Homo sapiens: one gene and its partners. The protein of the gene in region 3 interacts with the protein of the main gene of each other region in a pairwise test. Each region holds a gene or a part of one and is shown on either strand. Other genes may lie near its edges.

What was found.
Region 1: the proteins of CFAP100 (region 3) and NUPR1 interact in binary tests that used the Homo sapiens proteins (3 or more experiments, as listed by UniProt).
Region 2: the proteins of CFAP100 (region 3) and EPB41 interact in binary tests that used the Homo sapiens proteins (3 or more experiments, as listed by UniProt).

What each region holds. Positions count from the first base shown.
Region 1 is NC_000016.10:28,535,657-28,543,955, forward strand, and holds the start of NUPR1 (nuclear protein 1), read right to left. Parts: upstream 3,319-8,299; 5' UTR 3,252-3,318; coding exon 3,140-3,251; intron 2,554-3,139; coding exon of another isoform or gene 2,500-2,553; coding exon 2,363-2,499; 3' UTR 2,350-2,362; intron 2,014-2,349; 3' UTR 1-2,013. UniProt on the Homo sapiens protein: Transcription regulator that converts stress signals into a program of gene expression that empowers cells with resistance to the stress induced by a change in their microenvironment.
Region 2 is NC_000001.11:28,916,769-28,925,017, reverse strand, and holds part of EPB41 (protein 4.1), read right to left. Parts: intron 1-8,249. UniProt on the Homo sapiens protein: Protein 4.1 is a major structural element of the erythrocyte membrane skeleton. It plays a key role in regulating membrane physical properties of mechanical stability and deformability by stabilizing spectrin-actin interaction. Recruits DLG1 to membranes.
Region 3 is NC_000003.12:126,432,361-126,437,757, reverse strand, and holds the end of CFAP100 (cilia- and flagella-associated protein 100), read right to left. Parts: intron 4,963-5,397; exon of another isoform or gene 4,690-4,962; coding exon 4,554-4,689; coding exon of another isoform or gene 4,015-4,553; exon of another isoform or gene 3,583-4,014; coding exon 3,377-3,582; intron 2,200-3,376; coding exon 2,106-2,199; intron 1,468-2,105; coding exon 1,354-1,467; 3' UTR 1,202-1,353; downstream 1-1,201. Other genes in the region: uncharacterized protein LOC124906280, read left to right, coding at 4,015-4,560. UniProt on the Homo sapiens protein: May play a role in ciliary/flagellar motility by regulating the assembly and the activity of axonemal inner dynein arm.

The DNA of each region.
Region 1 (8,299 bases), on a different chromosome or scaffold from region 3:
CTCTCTTTCTTTTCTTTCTTCCTTCCTTTCTTTTCCTTCCTTCCTTCTTTTTCTCTTTCTTTCTTTCTTTCTTTTTCAATACATGGTTTCACTCTATTGCTCAGGCTGCAGTGCAGTGGCACCATCATGGCTTACTGTAGCCTCCAACTGGGTTCAAGGGATCCTCCAACTTCAGCCTCTGAGCAACTAGGACTACAGGCATGAGCCACCATGCTTTGCTAATTTTTAAATTTTTGTAGAGACAGGGCCTTGGTATGTTGCCTAGGCTGGTCTCGAACTCCTGGCCTCAAGCGATCCTCCCTCCTTGGCCTCCCAAAGGCTGGAAGGCTGAGGTGGGCAGATCATTTGAGGCCAGGAGTTTGAGACCAGCCTGGCCAACATGATGAAACCCCATCTCTACTAAAAATACAAAAATTGGCCAGGCGTGGTGGCTGACGCCTGTAATCCCAGCACTTTGGGAGGCCAAGGTGGGTGGATCATGAGGTCAAGAGATTGAGACCATCCTGGCCAACATGGTGAAACTCTGTTTCTACTAAAAATACAAAAATTAGCCAGGCATGGTGGCAGGTGCCTGTAGTCCCAGCTACTCAGGAGGCTGAAGCAGGAGAATAGCTTGAACCCAGGAGGCGGAGGTTGCAGTGAGCTGCGATCATGCCACTGCACTCCAGCCTGAGCAACAGAGTGAGACTCTGTATCAAAAAAACAAAAAAACAAAAATTAGCCAGGCGTGGTGGTGCTCACCTGTAATCCCAGCTACTCAGGGGGCGTAGGCACGAGAATTGCTTGAACCCGGGAGGCAGAGGTTGCAGTGAGCCAAGATGGTGCCACTGCACTCTAACCTGAGCAACAGAGTGAGACTCTGTCTCAAAAAAAAAATTGTAGAGATGGGGTCTTACTATGATGCTCAGGCTGGTCTCAAACTCCTAGGCTCAAGTAATCCTCCCACTTCGGCCTCCTAAACTGCTGTGATTACAGGCATGAGCCACTGCTCCCAGACTTTAGTTTTTGTTTGTTTGTTTGTTTTGAGACAGAGTCTCCCTCTGTCACCCAGGCTGGAGTGCAATGGCACGATGTCGGCTCACTGCAACCTCTACCTCCTGGGTTCAAGCGATTCTACTGCCTCAGCCTCCTGAGCAGCTGGGATTACAGGCACCTGCCACCATGCTTGGCTAATTTTTGGTATTTTTAGTGGAGATGGGGTTTCACCATGTTGGTCAGGCTGGTCTTGAACTCCTGACTTTGTGATCCACCCACCTCGGCCTCCCAAAGTGCTGGGATTACAGGCGTGAGCCACTGCCCCCGGCCCTGGCTTTTAATATTTTAAATCTCAGTTTTCTCTGACTTTTAGATGGCACTCATAAGTAGCGTTCCCGTCTATGAACAGGACACAATCAACAAAAACAGGTGCTGGGGAGGGCCGTGTTTCATGGGCAGTATCGCAAAAAAGCAGAAGAAATTCCTTTCCACTACGTAGGAGCCCACAGAAATGTATGCACTAAAATATATGCAAGCAAAAGCAAACAAACCAAAAGCTGCATTCACAGCGTAGACCCTGCAAGAGCAGGAACACTCCCTGCCCCAGATACATACACCAAACACAAATACACATCAAAGATGCTCTCTCAGGCTCATGAATGTGCAGGCACAGGCAAGCACACACATGCCCGAACAAAAACACACAAAGAACAAGGATGAACACACACCCAAGCTGTGGCTGCCGTGCGTGTCTATTTATTGTTGCTGCCACCCTGGAGGAGCCCCAGTTTCTTCTGTAGCTTTCTTTTCTGGGGGATCTTCCTGGCTCTGCCCCTCCATTCCCAGCCTCTCACTCCCCATCTTGCACTTTTGCTAGGGTTGGAGGCGCTTTCCTGGTAGCCCCTCAGAGACTCAGTCAGCGGGAATAAGTCCTAGGGGTGGGGGGTGTGGCAAGCCGGCCTGGATCCTGTCCTGGGTCCTCCTTCCTCCGCAGTCCCGTCTCTATTGCTGGGTGTAGTGTCCATGGTCTGGCCTCATCTGGGGGGTGAGGAAAAGCAGGTGGTAAAAGGGACAGAGATCTGGGTTCTAATTCTGCCTCTCCCACTCACTTGATTTGTGACTCCAGGGAAGGACCCACCCTCTCTATCCTCAATTTCTGTCTCTGTAAGTCAAATTTCCCTTCAATTGGAAAGGTTCTGTGTTCCCACTTTGCTCTGGCCACTAGGAAACTCACAATCAAACATATGTCTCGTTTTATTCTGCATCAAGACAACAGTTGCCTGATCCCTCCTCCCCACCCAATCACACACCTTCCGGCCTGTCCTTCATGGCAGAAGCACCACCTTGAGCTCTCTGGGCCCCCCGACTCCTTACCTCCAGCTCTGTCTCAGCGCCGTGCCCCTCGCTTCTTCCTCTCTGAATTCTGCAGCTTGGTCACCAGTTTCCTCTCGTGCCCGCCAGGGCTGGGGCGGTTGGTGTTGGCAGCAGCTTCTCTCTTGGTGCGACCTTTCCGGCCTCCACCTCCTGTAACCAAGGCAGGAGTCAGAGGTGAAGTGGGCATAGGCATGATGAGAGGCCCTGTCAGAGGAGAGGCAGGGGTTCAGGGTTGTGGGGATGGGAAGAGCAGGGAGAAGCCTGCTGCTTCCCCTCTGTGGAATGTGGGACCCCAGATGTGTGTGAGGTCCCAGGCTGAGTAACATAGCACTCCTGGGATAAGGGATTAGACAGGGGTGACGTGAGGGTCCAAGGAACAGGTTGGCTAGAAAAGGGTGAGTGGGCTGGGCAGGGTGGCTCACTCCTGTAATCTCAGCACTTTGGGAGGCCAAGGCAGGAGAATTGCTTGAGCCCAGGAATTTGGGATCAGCCTGGGAAACATAGTGAGACCCCATCTCACCACTGCAGGTGGTGTACACCTGAAGTTCCAGCCACTCAGGAGGCTGAAGCAGGAGGATCACTTGAGCCCAGGAGTTCGAGGCTGCGGTGAGTTGTTTGAGTTGTTGTGATCACACTACTGCACTCCAGCCTGGGTGACAGAGTGACTCTCTCAAAAAAAAAGAAAGAAAGAAACGAAGAGGAAAGGAAAGGAAATGAGAGGAAACAAGAGGGGTGGGTCCTGATTTCGGGAGAGGAGGAAGGACCGTGGAGATGGCTGAGTGGGCCTTACCGAGGTAGGAATGGGCCAGGCTATAGAGGTCAGATTCATCCAGGCTGGAGTCCTCGTCCTCCGGGCCTGGGGGCTGCTGGGGGGCGCTGGTTGCTGGTGGGAAGGTGGCCATCGTGCCTGGCTTGTCTTCCCTGCCTCTCTTCTTCTCCTAACGCTTTGTCTGTCTCTGCTTTCCTGGCCCCGGGCCTCTCCACTCCCTCAGCTTATAAGGCTGTGTCTCCTCCTCAGACCACAGTCTGGCTCCAGCCCATCAGGCCCTGTCTGATGCAATCTGGCCCCTTCCCAAAATCCAGCCCAGTAAACACAGTCATGAGACGGGAAGAGTCGGTCCCTGAGTCCAGCCCAACTCACCTCCTCCCTCCCAGGCTCACCCAGCTGGATATTTTCCATAGAGGAGGTCCCGCTTCTCGGCAGAAAGCAGGGAAGAGGCAGGATCTGGGCTAAAACACTCGTTGGGATCATGGCCTCACCTGATCGAGGGCTTCACCTGGGCCTGGGATGACGGCCACACAGCTAACCCCGGCACCCCAATTCTCGCTGAGATGCAGGACGTGAGGAAGGAGGGGGAAGGGATATCAGCACACTTGTGCCAGGGACAAGTCAGTGGCTTCCACCCAGTCACACTCAACATCTTGCTTGTCTTCTTTTTTTTTTTTGAAATGGAGTCTCTGTCGCCCGGCTGGAGTGCAGTGGTGTGATCTTGGCTCACTGCAACCTGCAACCTCCTCCTCCCAGGTTCAAGCAATTCTCCTGGCTCAGCCTCCCGAATAGCTGGGATTATAGACATCTGCCACCATGCCTGGCTAATTTTTGTATTTTTAGTAGAGATGGGGTTTCACCATGTTGGACAGGCTGATCTTGAACTCCTGACCTCAAGTCATCTGCCTGCCTCGGCCTCCCAAAGTGCTGGGATTACAGGCATGAGCCACACCCTTTTTTTTCTTTTTTCTATGAGAAACATCTTGGAAAACCCCTTAATATCCTGAAACAGGGTCCCCAGTAATGTAATCTCCCTCACCTAGGAGGAGGGTGGCAGAGGGTTGGAGAGTTCAGGGTCTGGAGCCAGTTGCCCTCAGTTCAATCCCCTGACCCACCACTTTCCGTGTGACCTTGGGCGAGTCCCTTCACCTCTCTGTGCCTTGGTTTCCAATTCTGTAAAATAAGGATGATAATAATTGTATCTTCTTCCTAGAGTTGGGGAGAGGATCAAATGAGATAATGTTTGAAAGACACATGCTACAGTGCCCGGTGACAGAGGGAGACCCTGTCTCAAAAACAAATTATAATAAAATAATATGTATTTCAAAATATGGATGTACTGAGGCAGAAGACACAATGAGGCCGAGCGTGGTGGCTTATGCCTGTAGTCCCAGCACTTTGGGAGATCCACAAAGTGGGTGGATCACCTGAGGTCAGGAGTTCAAGACCAGCCTGGCCAACATGGCGAAATCCCATCTCTACTAAAAATACAAAAATTAGCCTGGTGTGGTGGCAAGTGCCTGTAATCCCAGCTACTCAGGAGGCTGAGGCAGGAGAATCGCTTGAACCTGGGAGGGAGAGGTTGTGGTGAGCTGAGATCGAGCCACTGCACTCCAGCCTCAGCAACAGAATGAGACTGTGTCTGAAAACAAAAACAAAAACACAAAAAGCTGAACTTCTGCTTGTGTTTCTCCCTTGCCTGAGCCGGAATTGAATTTAGCCTTTGTTTTCCCAGATTTGGATGATGTATGAGTTCCTTAACACCCAGGAAATGAAAGTGAAGACAGGATACTTGAATGAAAACAGGATTGGGCCAATAATAACAGACCAGGTGATCAGAGAAAGAGGAAAATAATCTTAAATTAAGCAAAGATTGGCCTAGTGCGGTAGCTCATGCCTGTAATTCCAGGGCTCTGGGAGGGTAAGCTGGGAGGATTGCTTGAAGCTGGGAGTTCAAGGCCAGCTTGGGCAATAGAGCAAGACTCCATCCTTTTTTTGTTGGTTTGTTTGTTTTTGTTTTGAGACAGAGTCTCACTCTGTCACCAGGCTGGAGTGCAGTGGTATGATCTCGGCTCACTGCAACCTCCGCCTCCTGGGTTCAAGTGATTCTCCTGCCTCAGCCTCCTGAGTAGCTGGGATTACAGGCTTGTGCCACCACGCCCGGCTAATTTTTATATTTTTAGTAGAGACGGGGTTTCACCACGTTGGCCAGGCTGGTCTCGAACTCCTGACCTCAGGTGATCTGCCCGCCTCGGCCTCCCAAAGTGCTGGGATTACAGGCGTGAGCCACCTGGCCAGTATCTTTTTTATTTGTTTGCTTTACCATTATTTGTCCCCACTGGCATGCAACCGTTGGTTTAGTTTAGTTAATGGTTAAAGGAGTAGGCTCTGGAACAGGGCTTCTCAGGTCTAAAGCTTGGTTCTGCCCCCTAGTTAGCTGTGTGCTCTTAGACAAGCTTAGTCTGCATGTTTGTTTACTCGTCTATACAGTGGGATTAATGGCACCTAGGCTGGATAAGGTGAGGCACACCTGCAATCCCACTGTTTTGAAAGGCTGAGGTGGAAGGATCACTTGAGGTCAGGAGTTTGAGGCTGCGGTGAGCTATGATCGTGCCACTGCACTCGAAAAAGAAAAAGAAAAGAAGGTTGGGGCCGGGCACGGTAGCTCACACCTGTAATCCCAGCACTTTGGGAGGCCGAGGTGGGTGGATCACGAGATCAGGAGTTCGAGACCAGCCTAGCTAAAATGGTGAAACCCCGTCTCTACTAAAAATACAAAAATTACCTAGGCGTGGTGGTGTGTGCCTGTAATCCCAGCTACTCAGCAGGCTGAGGCAGTAGAATCGCTTGAACCCAGGAGGCAGAGGTTGCGGTGAGCTAAGATCGCGCCACTGCACTCCAGCCTGGACGACAGAGTGAGACCCGGTCTCAAAAAAAAAAAAAAATGCTTAGCGCAGTGCCTAGAAGATAATCAGTGTGCAATAAATGCTTGCTATTTTAATTATCATTATTCTCGGGGCAGGAATCTTGCCTGCCATATTGTATCCTCAATGCCTGGCACTCAGTCTGAGCTCAGTAAATGTCTAGTTGAATACATGAGGCTCTGCTAAGATCAGTGTTGCTTGCTCAGCTTCCACCTGCTCTGCAATGCAGGAACTGAGAGGCGAATTGTAGCCTCACAGGGGACCACAGAAACACTGTGATTGTCCCAGATGGAGCCAGGGAAGGAGGTCTCCCTGGCCTTGATCTTACAGGTGCTGGAAGAAAGAAGCCTATGAGAGAAGGAGGAAGGGCATGGTGGCTCACGCCTGTAATCCCAGCACTTTGGGAGGCCGACGAGGTTGGGTGGGTCACCTGAGGTCAGGAGTTGGAGACCAGCCTGGCCAACATGGTGAAACCCCGTCTCTACTAAAAATACAAAAATTAGCCGGGTGTGGTGGCGGGCACCTGTAGTCCCAGCTGCTGGGGAGGCTGAGGCTGGAGAATGGCATGAACCCGGAAGGCGGAGCTTGCAGTGAGCCCAGATCGCGCCACTGCACTCCAGCCTGGGCGACAGAGCGAGACTCCATCTCAAAAAACAAAACAAAACAAAAAAAAGGGCCAGGCGCGGTAGTTCACGCCTGTAATCCCAGCACTTTGGGAGGCCGAGGCGGGTGGATCACCAGGTCAGGAGTTCAAGACCAGCTTGGCCAACATGGTGAAACTCCGTCTTTACTAAAAATACAAAAATTAGCTGGGCGTGGAGGCATGCACCTGTAATTCAAGATACTCGGGAGGCTGAGGCGGAAGAATCTCTTGAACCCAGGAGGCAGAGGTTGCAGTGAGCCGAGATCACGCCATTGTACTCCAGCCTGCTGGAACCCCTCTAGCATGGATCTGCAGGGCTCTAGACGTGGCTCCATCTAGACGTAGAGGTGTGCTTTTTGTTACAGGAACAGCAGATTTGTATGCCTGCTGCCCTGTCACAGCCCTATTACACTGGACAGCAGGGATGCAGTAGAGAGAGTTTCATGATCACAGGGCACTGTGCAAGGGGATAGGAGGAGACCTGCGAATGCATCTCCCCAGGGAATTCTGGGATGGGGCTTTTAAGGGGATTATGGAGGGTGAGAGGCTAGAAAATTGGGGTCATTGGTCAGAGCAAGGGAAATGAAATCATCATGATGTGAAAAAGACATTTTTGGGGAGTTAGCTCCTGGTGGGGTCCTTCAGGCTGGCGGAGTCAGTCGCTTCACCGGCACGCAGGACCTGAAGGAATTTCTCAAAAGTAACATTTAATGTTTCATAACGTTCAAGTTGCTATCTCTAGTGCAGTTAAGGGGAACTATGATCTTGTAACCAGGTCTACGTGATTCTAGAACAGCAGGCACCAGACAACTAAGAGGAAGCAGATCAGGGGGCAGCTGACCTCATGATCAGCGCTGGGTGTGCTGCAAGCCTGGCTTGTTTCCATTTCTCCTCTCTGTTCTCTGATTAATTGCATGAGGTTTACAGGGATGGTTTCATTTTCCCATCCTCAAGCCTCCAGGTGCATGTAAAATCTGCCACGAGGAAGTTTATTTTCTTCCTGCTTAGAGTTACACCTTCGTGACGTTGCTAGGCACACCTATGACAACCCAGCGCCATCAGCTTGGAGTAAACGCAGAGGGCTGGGAGCTCCCAGGAGGGCACCTAACCTCTCTGGAGATAGGGAGATGAAGGCACACTTCCTGGAGGAGGTGAAGCTTGTTTTCTAATTCTTTTATTTTTAATTAATTAATTAATTTAATTTTAATTTTCTTTTCTTTTTTCTTTTTTTCTCTTTTTTTTGAGACAGAGTCTTGCTCTGTCACCCAGGCTGGAGTGCAGTGGCACGATCTCGGCTCACTGCAACCTCCGTGTCCCGGGTTCAAGCGATTCTCCTGTCTCAGTCTCCTGAGTAGCTGGAATCACAGGCATGCACCACTACACCCAGCTAATTTTTGTATTTTTAGTAGAGACAGGGTTTCATCATGTTGGCCAGACTGATTTCAAACTCCTGACCTCAAGTCATCCACCCGCCTCGGCTTCCAAAGTGCTAGGATTACAGGCATGAGCCATCGCACCCGGCCTATTTATTTATTTTTGAGACAGGTTCTCACTCTGTCGTCCAGGCTGAATACAGTGGAGCAACCTTGCTCACTGTAGCCTCGACCTCTAGGG
Region 2 (8,249 bases), on a different chromosome or scaffold from region 3:
CTCCAGCCTGGGTGACAGAGCGAGACTCCATCTCAAAAAAAAAAAAAAAAAAAGTTAGCCAGGCATAGTGGTGTGTGCCTGTAGTCTCAGCTCCTCAGGAGGCTGAGGTGGGAGGACTGCTTGAGCCCAGGAGGTTGAGGCTGCAGTGAGCTGTGACCACACCACTGCACTCCAGCCTGGGTGACAGTGCAAGACCCTGTCCCAGAAAAAGAAATAAGCTGCACAAGAACAGATACCTCTATTTTATTCACTGCTATGTCCCAATGTACTTATGATAGTGCCTTGTAAATAGTGAACAATCAATAAGTATTTATTACATGAATAAGTGGTAGATGTTTTAGTTATCTATTACTTTACAATAAATTACCCTCCAAAACATGGTGGCTTAAAACAGCAAACATTTATTATTGCACAGTTTCTGTGGATGAAGAATCCAGGCATGACTTAGCTAGGTGACTCTGGCTTGGGGTCTTTTTTATTTTTTTTTTGAGATGTAGTCTCGCTCTGTCACCCAGAGCTGGAGTGCAGTGGCACGATCTCAGCTCACTACAACCGCCACCTCTCAGGATCAAGCGATTATCCTGCCTCAACCTCCCAAGTAGCTGGGACTACAGGTGCACACCACCACACCCAGGTAATTCTTCTATTTTTAGTAGAGACGGGGTTTCGCCATGTTGGCAAGGCAGGTCTCGAGTTCCTGACCTCAGGTGATCCACCCACCTTGGCCTCCCAAAGTGTTGGGATTACAGGCATGAGCCACGCACCCGGCCAGGGGCTTTCATGAAGTTGTAGTAAAGCTGTCTACTGCATTTGCATTCACCTCTAGGCTCAACTCTGCCTGGAGAATCTGCTTCCAAGATCACTCACACCGAAGATCTGCATCCAAGTTTACTGACAGACCTCGTTTTTAACCACATGGACATCACTACAGACTGCCTGAGTGTTCTCAGGATATGGTAGCTAGTGGTCCCAGGGAGAGGGAGAAAGCCAGAATCCCAAGAGAGAAGCCACAGTATTTTATAACCTAATCTTAGAAGTGACATCCCATCACTTTTGCTGTATTCTATTCAATAGCCCCCACTCAAGGGGAGGAAATTACACTAAGGGTATGCATACCAGGAGGGAGGGATAATTGGGGGCCATAATAAAGGCTGCCTACCACAGTACGCATGATAAAAATTTAAAAACATAAAACAAAAAAACTTGCCCTTTAGTTATATATTCTTTGGTATATTTATTTAAATATGATTCTATGATCATTATGCAATTATTCATCCCAATGCTAGTCTTTTCCATCTTACAAAATACCAAAGAGAATACATTAAATATTGAACATATCTTGTTAACCAGTGTCCATTAATGGTCATATTAGAGATAATACAACTAGCAAGGATAAGTCAACAAAAATAGCATCTGGAGAAAAAAAGACTTACTGGGTAAATCTTGCTAAGTAGATGACACTGACCTTTACTATTTAATCATTATAGGCATCATCTTTAGGAGACGGAATGGCACTTAATAAAAGATCAGCTTTTTATATTACAATTAAAGAAATAATAAAAATTCAAAGGTTACTTAGTAAGCTAGAGGATATATCAATCTACCGTTAAGAAATAAAAAGGTTGCCAAGCGCAGTGGCTCACACCTCTAATCCCAGCACTTTGGGAGGCCGAGGCGGGTAGATTACCTGAGGTCAGGAGTTCGAGACCAGCCTGACCAACATAGTGAAACCCTGTCTCTACTAAAATACAAAAATTAGCCAGGTGTGGTGGCACACGCCTGTAATCCCAGCTACTTGGGAGGCTGAGGCAGGAGAATCGCTTGAATCCGGGAGCTGAGATCCCATCACTGCACTCCAGCCTGGGTGACAGAGTGAGACTCCATCTCAAAAAAAAAAAAAAAAAAAGAAAAGAAAAGAAAGGAAAGAAGGAAGAAAAAGGTTTAAGGCTAATTACACATACCTGATTATCAGAATCAAACAGTGCATCACGGCTGAGTGTGTTGGCTCACACCTATAATCCCAACACTTTGGGAGGCCAAGTCAGGAGGATCTCTTGAGACCAGGCTGGGCAATATCATAAGATCATCTCAGCCTGGGCACAATGGCTCACACCTGTAATTCCAGCACTTTGGGAGGCCGAGGCAGGCGGATCATGAGGTCAGGAGTTTGAGACCAGCCTGGCCAATATGGTGAAACCCCGACTCTACTAAAAAATACAAAAATTAGCCGGGCATGGTAGCACACACCTATAGTCCCAGGTACTTGGGAGGCTGAGGCAGAAGAATTGCTTGAACCCGGGAGGCAGAGGTTGCAGTGAGCCGAGATCGCGCCACTGCACTACAGCCTGAGCAACAGAGTGAGACTCAATCTCGAAAAAAAAAAAAAAAAAATCCTGTCTCTAAGAAAAAATTTTAAAACTGGCGGGGCACGGTGGCATGCACCTGTAGTCCCAGCTACTCAGGAGGCTCAGGTGGGAGGACTGCTTGTGCCCGGGAGTTCAAGGTTAGAGTAAGCCATGATTGCCCCACTGCACTCCAGCCTGGGCAACAGAATGAGACAGAGGATAAAAAGATAACAATAAATCTTCAGAGAAGAAGATATCTTTAAAACCTCTTTCCTCTACCAGGCTTCTTATTCTTGGTCTCCTTTCCCTTAAGTAGCTCTCCTTTACTTTATTTACTTGGCAACAACTATTTCCAACCTAACACAATTATCTCAAGACTATCTAAATATAAAATATAATTTTATAGGCCAGGTGCGGTGGTTCATGCCTGTGATCTGAGCACTTTGGGAGGCCAAGGCGGGCGGACCAGGAGGTCAGGAGTTCGAAACCAGTCTAACCAACACGGTGAAACCCCGTGTCTACTAAAAATACAAAAATTAGCCAGGCGTGGTGGCACGTGCCTGTAATGCCAGCTACTTGGGAGGCTGAGGCAGGAGAATCGCTTCAACCTGGGAGGCAGAGGTTGCAGTGAGCCAAGATCATGCCATTGCACTCCAGCCTGGGTGACAGAGAGAGACTCCGTCTCAAAAAAAAAAAACAAAAAAAAAGTGTATATATATATATATATATATATAAAATTTCATAAATAAAATACTATTTACATTTTCACTGGAAAAACCACAAAGTATACTATGTGGATTTTCTTGCCTCCAAAAGCAATTGTGTTATTTCAAGTGTTGAGGATGCCAGAAAGCTTGAAGATTTAAAAATAACCTCACAAAGAGCTCATTTTCAACACCAGATGGAAAGAAATTACTCTAAAGACACATGTGTAGGAAGACAAATATACAATATCATATGATACCATGCAAAAGGTTTATATAATTACGTAATACCATCAAGACTGGAAAGACTGCAGGTAGTAAGCTGGCAACAGTGTCGATCCTCTGAATCATTAAAAAAAAGAGAAAAGGGCAAGAAACAGCAAGTGGGTGGTAGCAAAAAAAATTTTTTAAAGCCTTTACTTTAAGCTGCCTTCCATGTGTCCCTATCGCATGCTGAAATGGTAGGCAGGTAAAATTTGAGGGCTTAAATCCTTGGCACTCCTGAGAGTCCTGCCTGTGTCCATATGGCCAAAAACTGGGGAGGGAAGGGGGAATGGGATGAATTTCAACAATCTGTATGAAATGTATTATTAAGGTGAAACACTCTTCACTTGAATACATATAGAACTTCTAATTGGTAAATTAAAATATGTGCTTGGCATCTAAGTTAAAGCAGCATTTCTTTATAAGATAGGTTTAAAGATATGCCATTAAGATCCCATTGTGTTAAAATGATTTTAATAGGATTACTTAAGAGTATATGTAAGTACTAATAGCTGTATATCAATCACAACTAAACCTTGGCCTAATACTATGTATTCATAAATCACCAAAAATATACATTTCTATTACACGTATGGGTTACAGGCTTAAATTTAACCAATTCAAAACAACTCTATTAGCTAGATGTGATGGCACACACCTGTAGTCCCAGCTATTTAGGTGGCTGAGACAGGAGGATCACTTGAGCCCAGGGGTTCAACACCAACCTCAGCAACATAGAGAGACTCCCCATATAAATTTTTAAAAATTAAAATAGGCTGGGCGCCATGGCTCACACCTGTAATCCCAGCACTTTGGGAGGCCAAGGCAGGCAGATTTCTTGAGCCTAGGAGTTCAAGACCAGCCTGGTCAAGATGGCAAAACCCAGTCTCTAAAAATATAAAAAATCAGCCAGGTGTGGAGCCTGTAGCTCCAGCTACTCAGGAGGCTGAGGTGGGAAGATCACCTGAGCCTGGGAAGTTGAGGCTGTAATGAGCCATGATCGCACCACTGCACTCCAGCCTGGGTGACAGGAGTAAGACCCTGTCTCAAAAAATAAATAAATAAATAAATAAAAATAAAATAATCCTGTGCTCTAATATAGTTAAATCACGGGGAGTTTCTCACTTGAAACTTTTCTATCATAACTTTTTTATGATTTAATGCAGATATAACAAATATAATGCATGGGCAAAAGTTTTCTGAGTGAATATTAATGTAGAAAGTACCAAAACCTCAGTCTATGTTGTGTCCGGTGCTATGATTCAAACATATAGAGGGCCTACCAAAAGCTGATCTGCATTAGGGTGACTTTTGTGGAGGATGGAATCAGGTTGCATCTATAAATAACAATTAACTACAAGAGTACAGATTATATCCAATCTTATTTGATTATTTCCACCTATTTCCAAAAAAAGATGGAGGTGTTCCTGTCTCTATTAATAGATATTAGATAACAGAACAGAATTGTAGATATACATTGAATATAGAATTAGGTAATAGAAAATAATCTTAATAGAGCATCTATTGCTTCTTCCAATCTAATCAATATAAACTCACAGTCATATTTCTTATCCATTCCATCAGACAGATAATCTTGCCCCTTCCTACCCACCCTGCCAAAATTTCTTTAACCTTACCCAAGCTCTATTCCACATAGCTTAGAAACAATTTTAATCTCCACAAGCAGAGATCACCCTGAGAGTTGAGGGCCTAGATTAATTGGGTAGAACTGACTCAAAGAGTCATCAGCTACGGAAGAGGGAGAGCAGCAATTCAATAAACAATCACAGTTTAATCCACATAGATTTAACTTGGAGATAAGAGATAACTTGCAAAAAAGAGAACTGCTCTTAATTGCAATAATAAAATAATAAAAATAATAAAACAATAAATAATTTAAAAGCATGACGCCAGAATGTCTCTGGAATTTCTATATAGAAAGGACTTTTGGGCTGGATGCTGTGGCTCATGCCTGTAATCTCAGCACTCTCAGAGGCCAAGGCAGATGGATCACTTGAGATCAGGAGTTCAAGACCAGCCTGGCCAACATGGTGAAACCCCGTTTCTACCAAAGAATACAAAAATTAGCCGTGCATGCCTGTAGTCCCAGCTACTCAGGAGGCTGAGGCGGAAGAATCGCTTGAACCCGGGAGGCAGAGGTTGCAGTGAGCCGAGATCATGCCACTGCATTCCAGCCTAGGCAACAGAGCAAGACCCTGCCTCAAAAAAAAAAAAGAAAGAAAGGACTTTTAAGGATAGCAATTTGACTGGAAGGAGAGACAGAATATTTGGATATCAAGCTCCCAGTTCCTACCCAGATTGCATGTTTACTTAGGGTGACTTAGTGGGAAGCTGACGAAGCTAGCGGGTAGGGGATATTAAAGTCTCTTCAAGCTACTCCTTGAATTATACTGGCTGCTGTTCTCCAAAGTTCAAAGAGCTAGCCAATTTATTTTCAAATATTTTAAGTGGATACAATTCAATTTAAATAAAAAATCAGCAAAATAAGTATAAACAGACTTTCATCATAATCGGATTTTCCCAAAACCAATATTTGAAGCAAAGTGTCAGTAAGGTGGGTAGTTCTAAATGAGATCAGCACTCAATATAAAATATCAAAGTTCTCCTTTCTAACACCTCCAAGTTCTGAATACTCCTCACTGCTACAGCATTCTTCTTTATCTTTCTATGTATTCATTAAATAGCAGCAGAGTAAATCAAAATACTAATCTAACCCAGTGTGCACTCCAGAGTAAGTTATATTGCATTTGACTAAACACACCATGAACCCACTCTTAAAAAGGACGCACAGTAAAAGCCACCAGTGACATACCAAGAAACTTAAATGAACAACAAAAAATAACATACATTTGGCATCTGCCTCTCCTCTCCTCTAACTAAATGCTATGATAAATGCAATCAAGCAATTACTTTTTCTTTTTTCTCTTTGAGACAGAATTTCACTCTGTTGCCCAGGCTGGAATGCAGTGGTCTCAAACTCAAAGGCTCAAGTGATCCGTGGGCCTCGGCCTCCCAAAGTGCTGGGATTACAAGCATAAACCACTGCACCTAGCTAGCAATTACTTTTCAATAATTTTGGATCCTTCACATACATAAGGCCCATAACTGATTAATTCAGAGGCCATCTTTGGGGGCTTTATTTAGAGGAAAAAAACAAAGTTATTCATAAGAAAAGTTATTGGAATTATTGTTGTTTAGCTCACAAAATAAAGTGATTCCATGTTCAAGTAATTAAAGAAAAAATTCAAATATAGAGGTAGCAATGAATCCACATCTGAATATGCATTTAACCAAACACAAACTTGATGAAACTCAGAAAAATACAGGCCATTGGCTGGGTGTGGTGGTTCATGCCTGTAATCCCAGCACTTTGGGAGGCGGACGTGGGCAGATCACGAGGTCAAGAGATTGGAGACCATCCTGGCCAACATGGTGAAACCTCGTCTCTACTAAAAATACAAAAATTTAGCTGGGTGTGGTGGTGTGTGCCTGTAGTCCCAGCTACTCAGGAGGCTGAGACAGAAAAGACAAGAAAAACAAAAATACACTGGCAACACTTATGCTGTCCTGCCTCTTAGATAACAAGGAAACAGACTGTGGTCTACATCTATGCTCCTCTTGATTTCAGAACCAAACTCAGCCTCTCATGGCCACTGATATTCTAAAGTTATGAAATCAGATTAGCAATATGAAACTGGATTACTACATTAAAAAAAAGTAAGCAAACTCTATCATTCACACCAACAATTACACACCAGGCATGGTGGCTCATGTCTGTAATACAGACTAAGCTGGGCACAGTGACTCATGTCTGTAATCCCAGCACTTTTGGAAGCAGAGGTGAGACGATCATTTGAGCTCAGGAGTTTGAGACCAGCAGTTTGAGACCAGCCTGGGAAACAATAGCAGGACCCCGTGTTTTAAAAACGAAAAAAAAAAGCTGGGCATGGTGGTGCACGTCTGTAGTCCCAGCTGCTCAGGAGGCTCAGGTGGGAGAATCACTTGAACCCAGGAGTTCAAGGCGGCAGTGAGCCAGGATCATGCCACTGCCCTCCAGCTTGGGCAACAAGGTAAGATCCCTGTCTCTAAAAACATATGTATACAGGGCCAGGCACGGTGGCTCATGCCTGTAATCCCAGCACTTTGGAAGGCCGAGGCGGGTGGATCACGAGGTCAAGAAATCGAGACCATACTGACCAACATGGTGAAACCCCAACTCTACTAAAAATACAAAAGTTAGGTGGGCATGATGGCAAGCGCCTGTAATCCCAGCTACTTGGGAGCCTGAGCCAGGAGAATTGCTTAAATCCAGGAGGTGGAGGTTGCAGTGAGCTGAGATCATGCCACTGCACTCCAGCCTGTGTGACAGAGTAAGACTCCATCTCAAAATAAATAAATAAATACACACACACACATACACACACACACACACACAGAGAGAGAGATGGCAAAGCAAGGGTTATTACAGAGTAGTTCTATTTGGTTGCACAATACAAAAAATAAGGAGAATAAAGGTGGAAAGGTAGATTGTAGCCATATTGCATAAGAACTTACAAGACATTTGGTATAAAACACTTAATAAATGTTGGGAGAGGCCGGGTGAGGTGGCTCACATCTGTAATCCCAGCACTTTGGGAGGCCCAGGGAGGAGGATCTCTTGAGTCCAGGAATTCAAGACCACCCTAGGCAACATAGTGAGACTGTCTCTACAAAAAATAAAAAGACATTAGCCAAGCATGGGGGCACACGCCTATAGTCCCAGCTACTAGGGAGGCTGAGGCAGGAGGATCACTTGAGCCCAGGAGTTTAAGGCTGCAGTGAGCCGTGATCATGCCACTGCACTCCAGCCTGGGTGACAGAATGAGACCCTGTTTAAAAAAAAAAAAAATTGTTGGGAGAATTTTGGTAAAACCTA
Region 3 (5,397 bases):
AGACTAAATTCATAGCCGAGAGCTCGGGGGGATGGTAGAGTTAAAATTTAAAATAATTTTCTAAATTCTGTATTTGGATATTAGTGTTTAAGTGGTAATTTGGCAACAGTTTATAAAGTGATGTTCTGAATACCATAAATTATGTGTAGGACTGTGATGGCGCGTGTATGTTTTATTATTGAGGTTGATGTGCACATAATACGTCAGTGTATATTTTTACCGAGTGAGGTCTGTCTTGTAAAAGGAGACAAGGTGATCACCTTGCCCATGTTTATTTGTAAGTCTGTCAACTTAGCAATGACACAGGGTCACTCCTAAATGACTTTTTTTTTTTTTTTTGCCTTGTGCCTTTTGAAGTATGTGTTCATTCAGAGGCTGTTTTGATTCTCAGACTGAATCATTCAAACTCTGCCCTGTGTTTGTTTCTTGAATTTGGGGGTGACATCAAGTTTGAGTGAGTCCTCCCTCTGTCTTGTCTCACTCTGAGGTGCTGTCCCCAGGTGCTGTTCCACGTGGAAGAATCCACACCTCGTCGACAAATGGGTCTTCTCCACAGACCGGCGCTCTGTCACCAACTAAAGGCGAGGGGAGAACTTGCCCACCTGGCAGGCTCTTTAGCCCCAAGGTGGCCCGGAGTCCTCCTCCCTCCATGGGAGGCTTTTGGCCACCATGGCGGGTGGAGCCGCACCCACCCCATCTCCATGGGGAGGAGAGTCTTCCCCCAGGAATGCCCTCTCGGCCTCTATTTTTCTCCCATGTGCCTCCCTGGGAACGTCACCGTGAAGTGACTGGGACTGGCACCCAGTGTTCTGGGCACCAAGGTTCCCTGCCGGTGATGGGCCTAACTCCTAGTGCAAATGAATGAAAGTTTTCTTATAGTCATGCACCGAAGGTTTTTCACCTTGGCTTAATTCAAGTAGCTACATATATGGCATTCAGCCCATTGTTTCTCCTTTAGTTGGTAGTGCTGGCCCTGCCATATACCTAGCTGCCTGCTTGTATTTCTTTGGTCTTTGCACAGAGGCTGATCTCACACTACACTCAGCGTGGAATTAGCTTTTGTCTCGCAGAGCAGCTGTTTTAGATGGGAACCAAGGTGTCATGCTCTTGCCCTCAAGCATCTGCTTAGGGTTAAATGATGAACCGGCGGGGTGCTGAGATTTGGCAATGGTGGCTGCATCCTTAAGCAGGCCTTCAAGACTCCAGAGAGACATGAATTTATTCAGGTGAGGAAGGGAGCACACAGGAGACAGAGAGGACTCAGTTGGGCCACTCGAGACCCAGCCCAGTCTCTGCTTCCTCTGCCAACATCTTTGCTAAGCCTTCAGCCAGAACAGCTATGGTCTGCGAAGATTAAGTAAAGAAAAATAGCAGCTCCTCCTCCTCCTTGTCCATCAGTGTGTGCTCAGACTGTTGTTTGATCCTGTGGGCTGGGGGTCGTGAGCGGCATACCAGTGTCCTGCCTCTCTGCAGGGGAAACAAGCCCAGTGAGCCTTGCTGCCTAGTGAGCCGTATGCCCATATACCCCTGCCCCTGGTGCAGGGAGAGGCCCAGCAGCTCCAGTCACCTCCAGGCCACTCTGGTCAGCCCTGCAGGCTGAGGGCTGGAGTTAACTCTGAAATAACTGGGGGTGTGAGTCTGCCTGGCATTTATCAAGCCTGGTCTCTGGAGCACCACCTATTAGATGTGGGGGCAGAGGGACCTGCTTCCTGTTGCCAGGGTCAGAAGGCAGGAAGGGTGGGGGCCTTGGGACACAGCAGTAGGGGGACCCCAGTGACGGGCAGTGAGCAGGGCTTGGGGTCTGGCCGGAGTGTGGGTAGGGTGGTGGGACCCTGCTCCTGAGCAGAGTGTACCTGGCTGGGGTGGGTGGGCATGGCTGAACCAGGCTCAGCCTGGCATGGGCCATGGGCTGGCAGCCTGGGGAAGAGCCCCCTGCAGGAAGCAGGTCCTGGGAGAGGCCTTGCTCCGAAGGCAGCCTGTCTCCCTCAGAGCCTCATTGAATGCCTTCAGAGTGGTAGCATCAGGGGCTTGGGCTGCAGGACCTCAGCTGCCATGCTGTCTTGGGACCCCCTCCAGCAGAGACCCCCCAAGGCGACCCTGCCTACCTTCTTCTTGATCTCAGCCTGGGCGCGCGCCCGGGCCCGCTGCAGATGCTCCTCCTGTAGGATCTTTTGCATCTGGAGCTTCTCTTCTCGAAGTCTGGGTGGCAAGAAATGACATTGAAAACTGGGGGGACCTGGAAGGTGTTGTGTAATCTCCACACGGAGTCCCCAGGCCAGGCCGTGTCCTCCCTCAAGAAAACTCCCAGCTCCTCTTCACCTCTTTTGCCAGGTCAAGTTCTCAATACCTATCCACAGCCAAAGCACCGCTGCTTTTGGCCAAGGTGGCCTAGGCCCAGAGGAGGACAACCAGGGCCCTGCTGCTCCGAGGCCCTGGCTCTGGCCTCCTGCAAGGGCTGAATCTAAGGTTCATCCAGCAGACCCCTCCCAGAGGCACATTTCTCTGAATCTACACCCATGGCCTGATCTGTGCACCTGTGGCCTCCCTTGCCACCATGAAGGCCAGCATCCCCCTGGGGCGAGAGTCCTGTCTCCTTCCTATATATACTCTCAGTCATCAAAGCCTGGTCTAGTGCCCACTCTGAGCAGGGTACCAGGGACCCAGAGGAGAAGCCCCTGTGCTTGGGGGGACGGATGGATGTTTGCAGATTGCGCTGTCTCAGAGCCCTGCACGGGGTGGATGAACCGGGCTGCCCACAGGCCAGGGAAGCCACAACCCCCATCTACCTTGGGTTCAGGCTGGTGTCCCGACAGATAGCAAGCTGCTGCCCATCTGCCCCCCTCCACTCCCCTCTGAGCTGAAACTCCCAAGGCTCTCTGAGCCTCTGCACTTTGTCTTCCGCTCCAGCAACACTGCTGTAGCCATGCCTTCTCTCCTGGGTGCTGGCAGCTGCCCTTGCCCTCAGCCTCCAGCCCCTCCAGTCCAGCCCCAGAGGGAAGAATCTAACCACACCCTACCTGGCCGTGTTTGCCCCACTGCTTAAAGCCCTCCACTGCTGTTCCATGTATTTGAGGCTGACCGTGCTAGCCACACTCTAACTAAGCTCCAGCTCTTCTATCTTCTAGACCCTGTCCCTCCCTGAGCCTCCTGGCCACATCGAGTCACTGTCGTTTGCTCTAGGAAGCTTTCCCTAACCACCCCCCACTTGACTGTGATGCCCCTCTAGATCCCCCCAAGACATGGGCTTTTGTCTCTCATAGCACAGAGCAGGAGGGGCCTGTCTCCTGGGAGTGCTTTGAGGGTGGGGCCTGTATGTGCCCTCTGCCCTCAGGGCCAGCCAGGACACAGCAGCTGGCAGGGAGAGCCTAGAGCTCACCTGATGCGCCGCTCCTTCTCCTTTGCCCTCTCGGCCTGCTCGATCTTGACCTGGGGCACGTGCTCCAGGTTCTCTAGCAGCTCATCCAGCTGGTGCTCAATGATGGTCAGCATCTGCACGGTGCCCAGGTTGGCCTCCTGCTGGGTGCCGGTGCAGTGCCGGTACACATCCAGCACCTTGCAGTTCAGGCTCTCTAGCAGCTTATCCTGTGGAGGAGGTGGCTTCCAGCAGGGTGCTGGCAGGCGGAAACCCACCCCCATGCCAGTGCCTTCAGCGGTGGCCTGCTGACCTCCCAGGGTGGGGGCCACCGCTTGGCACACAGTGGGAGCTCTGAGAACATGGGCTAAAACAGAACTTGGGGAACTGGCTTTTCTTGGCCAGAGCAGCCTATCCCCCGGGCCCCCTGGAGTCAGCCAGATCCCTGGTTCCAGCCCCTCTCCCAGCTGCCTCTGGTGAGCCAACGGGGCCCAGTCCCCTCCTCCAGGGAACCCTGCACCCTGGGCACCCCACAGGGCTATGTCTTCTCTGAGACTGTTCTGACACTTAGAAAACAGATAACAGCCCCTCCATGTGGGCTATATGAGGAGAGAGGAGCAGCAGGCAGGCAGCTCAGCCCAGCCTGGGCACAGCCAGTGCCCATGGATTCTGGCTGTATCGGGAGCGCTGTCTTGCTCATGGCTGCATCCCACACCCTTGGCCCTGTGCCTGGCACACAGCAGGCACTTGACAGTAGGAAGCCATCCCATGCCCGGGGTGGCCCCAGGCTGTCAGGTTGGGAGCGGGCTGAGCCTTTGTCTGGGTCCTGGCTTCTGCTGCTCAGAACACCACTGGCTTTCTCTTCTCTCCCAATTCTCTCACCCTCTCAGCCTGGCTTGAGGACACGCCTCTTCCCCCCCTTCAGGATCACCTTGCCAGACACAATATATGTGTTTAAGAAGCAGACACATTTGTTGAATAAAAGAATGAAGCAATGGATGAGGCGTGGGGGCAACCAAGCTGGCTGGCACAGGCATCAATACATGTGGTGGCTCCTGGAGGGAGGCAGGGCAAGGGCAGCTGCAGGGCACTCACCCGGGCCTTGTCCTCCATCTTCCCAAGGGCTGTCAGGGCTCCTCCAGTGGGTGCCCAAGGGTCCCTCCTTACCCTGGGCCTCTGGCCACCTTGATCCCCAGCCTACCTGCTGATCGCCCTTGTACTCGCCGAAGTGGAAGACTCGGGCTTTGAGCTCCAGCTCAGCTGCTGTGTCCTCCTCCTTGGTGATGGACATCATCATTGTGGTGACCCACTGCTTCAGCTGGTTGACCTCCCTGTCCCTGGAAGAGGGGAAAACCGGCAGGGCATCAGTCACTCAGCACAGCCCTGGGCACATCGCTTCTCTGAGCCTGTCTGTACAGTGCTTTGCCCCTACCAGCTGTCCTGAGGGCTGAAGGATCATGGGTGCCAAGTCTCTGCATGCCCAGGGGGTCAGAAATGCTGGTAGAATGTAGGGGAAAATGTAAAATATTTAACAATCAACATTAAAGAAAATAAACAGCTTCATTGAGGCATAATTCACAGACAATAAAATTAGCATAACCATCATAAAATATACAAGTCAGTAATTTTTTATATATTCAAGGAGTTTACACAACCATGACCATAATCTAATTTTAGAACATTTTCATCACCCTGTGCCCATTAACAGTCACTCCTCATTGTCCCCTCTATCCTTTGGTCTTAAGCCACCATGAATCTACTTTGTGTCTACCCTGAACACTTCATAAAAATGGAGTCACACAACATGTTTTCTTTTGTGACTCGCTGCTTTCACCCAGCATATTTTCAAGGTCCCTCCATGTTGCAGCATGTGTCAGCACTTCATTTCTTTTTATAGCTGAGTAATCTTCCATTGCATACGTAGGCCACACTTTGTTGATCCATTCATCCATTGATGGGCATTTGGGTTGTTTCCACCTTTTGGCTCTTGGGAATATTGCTGCTATGAACATTCATGTGCAGGTTTTTGTGAGGACATGTTTTCA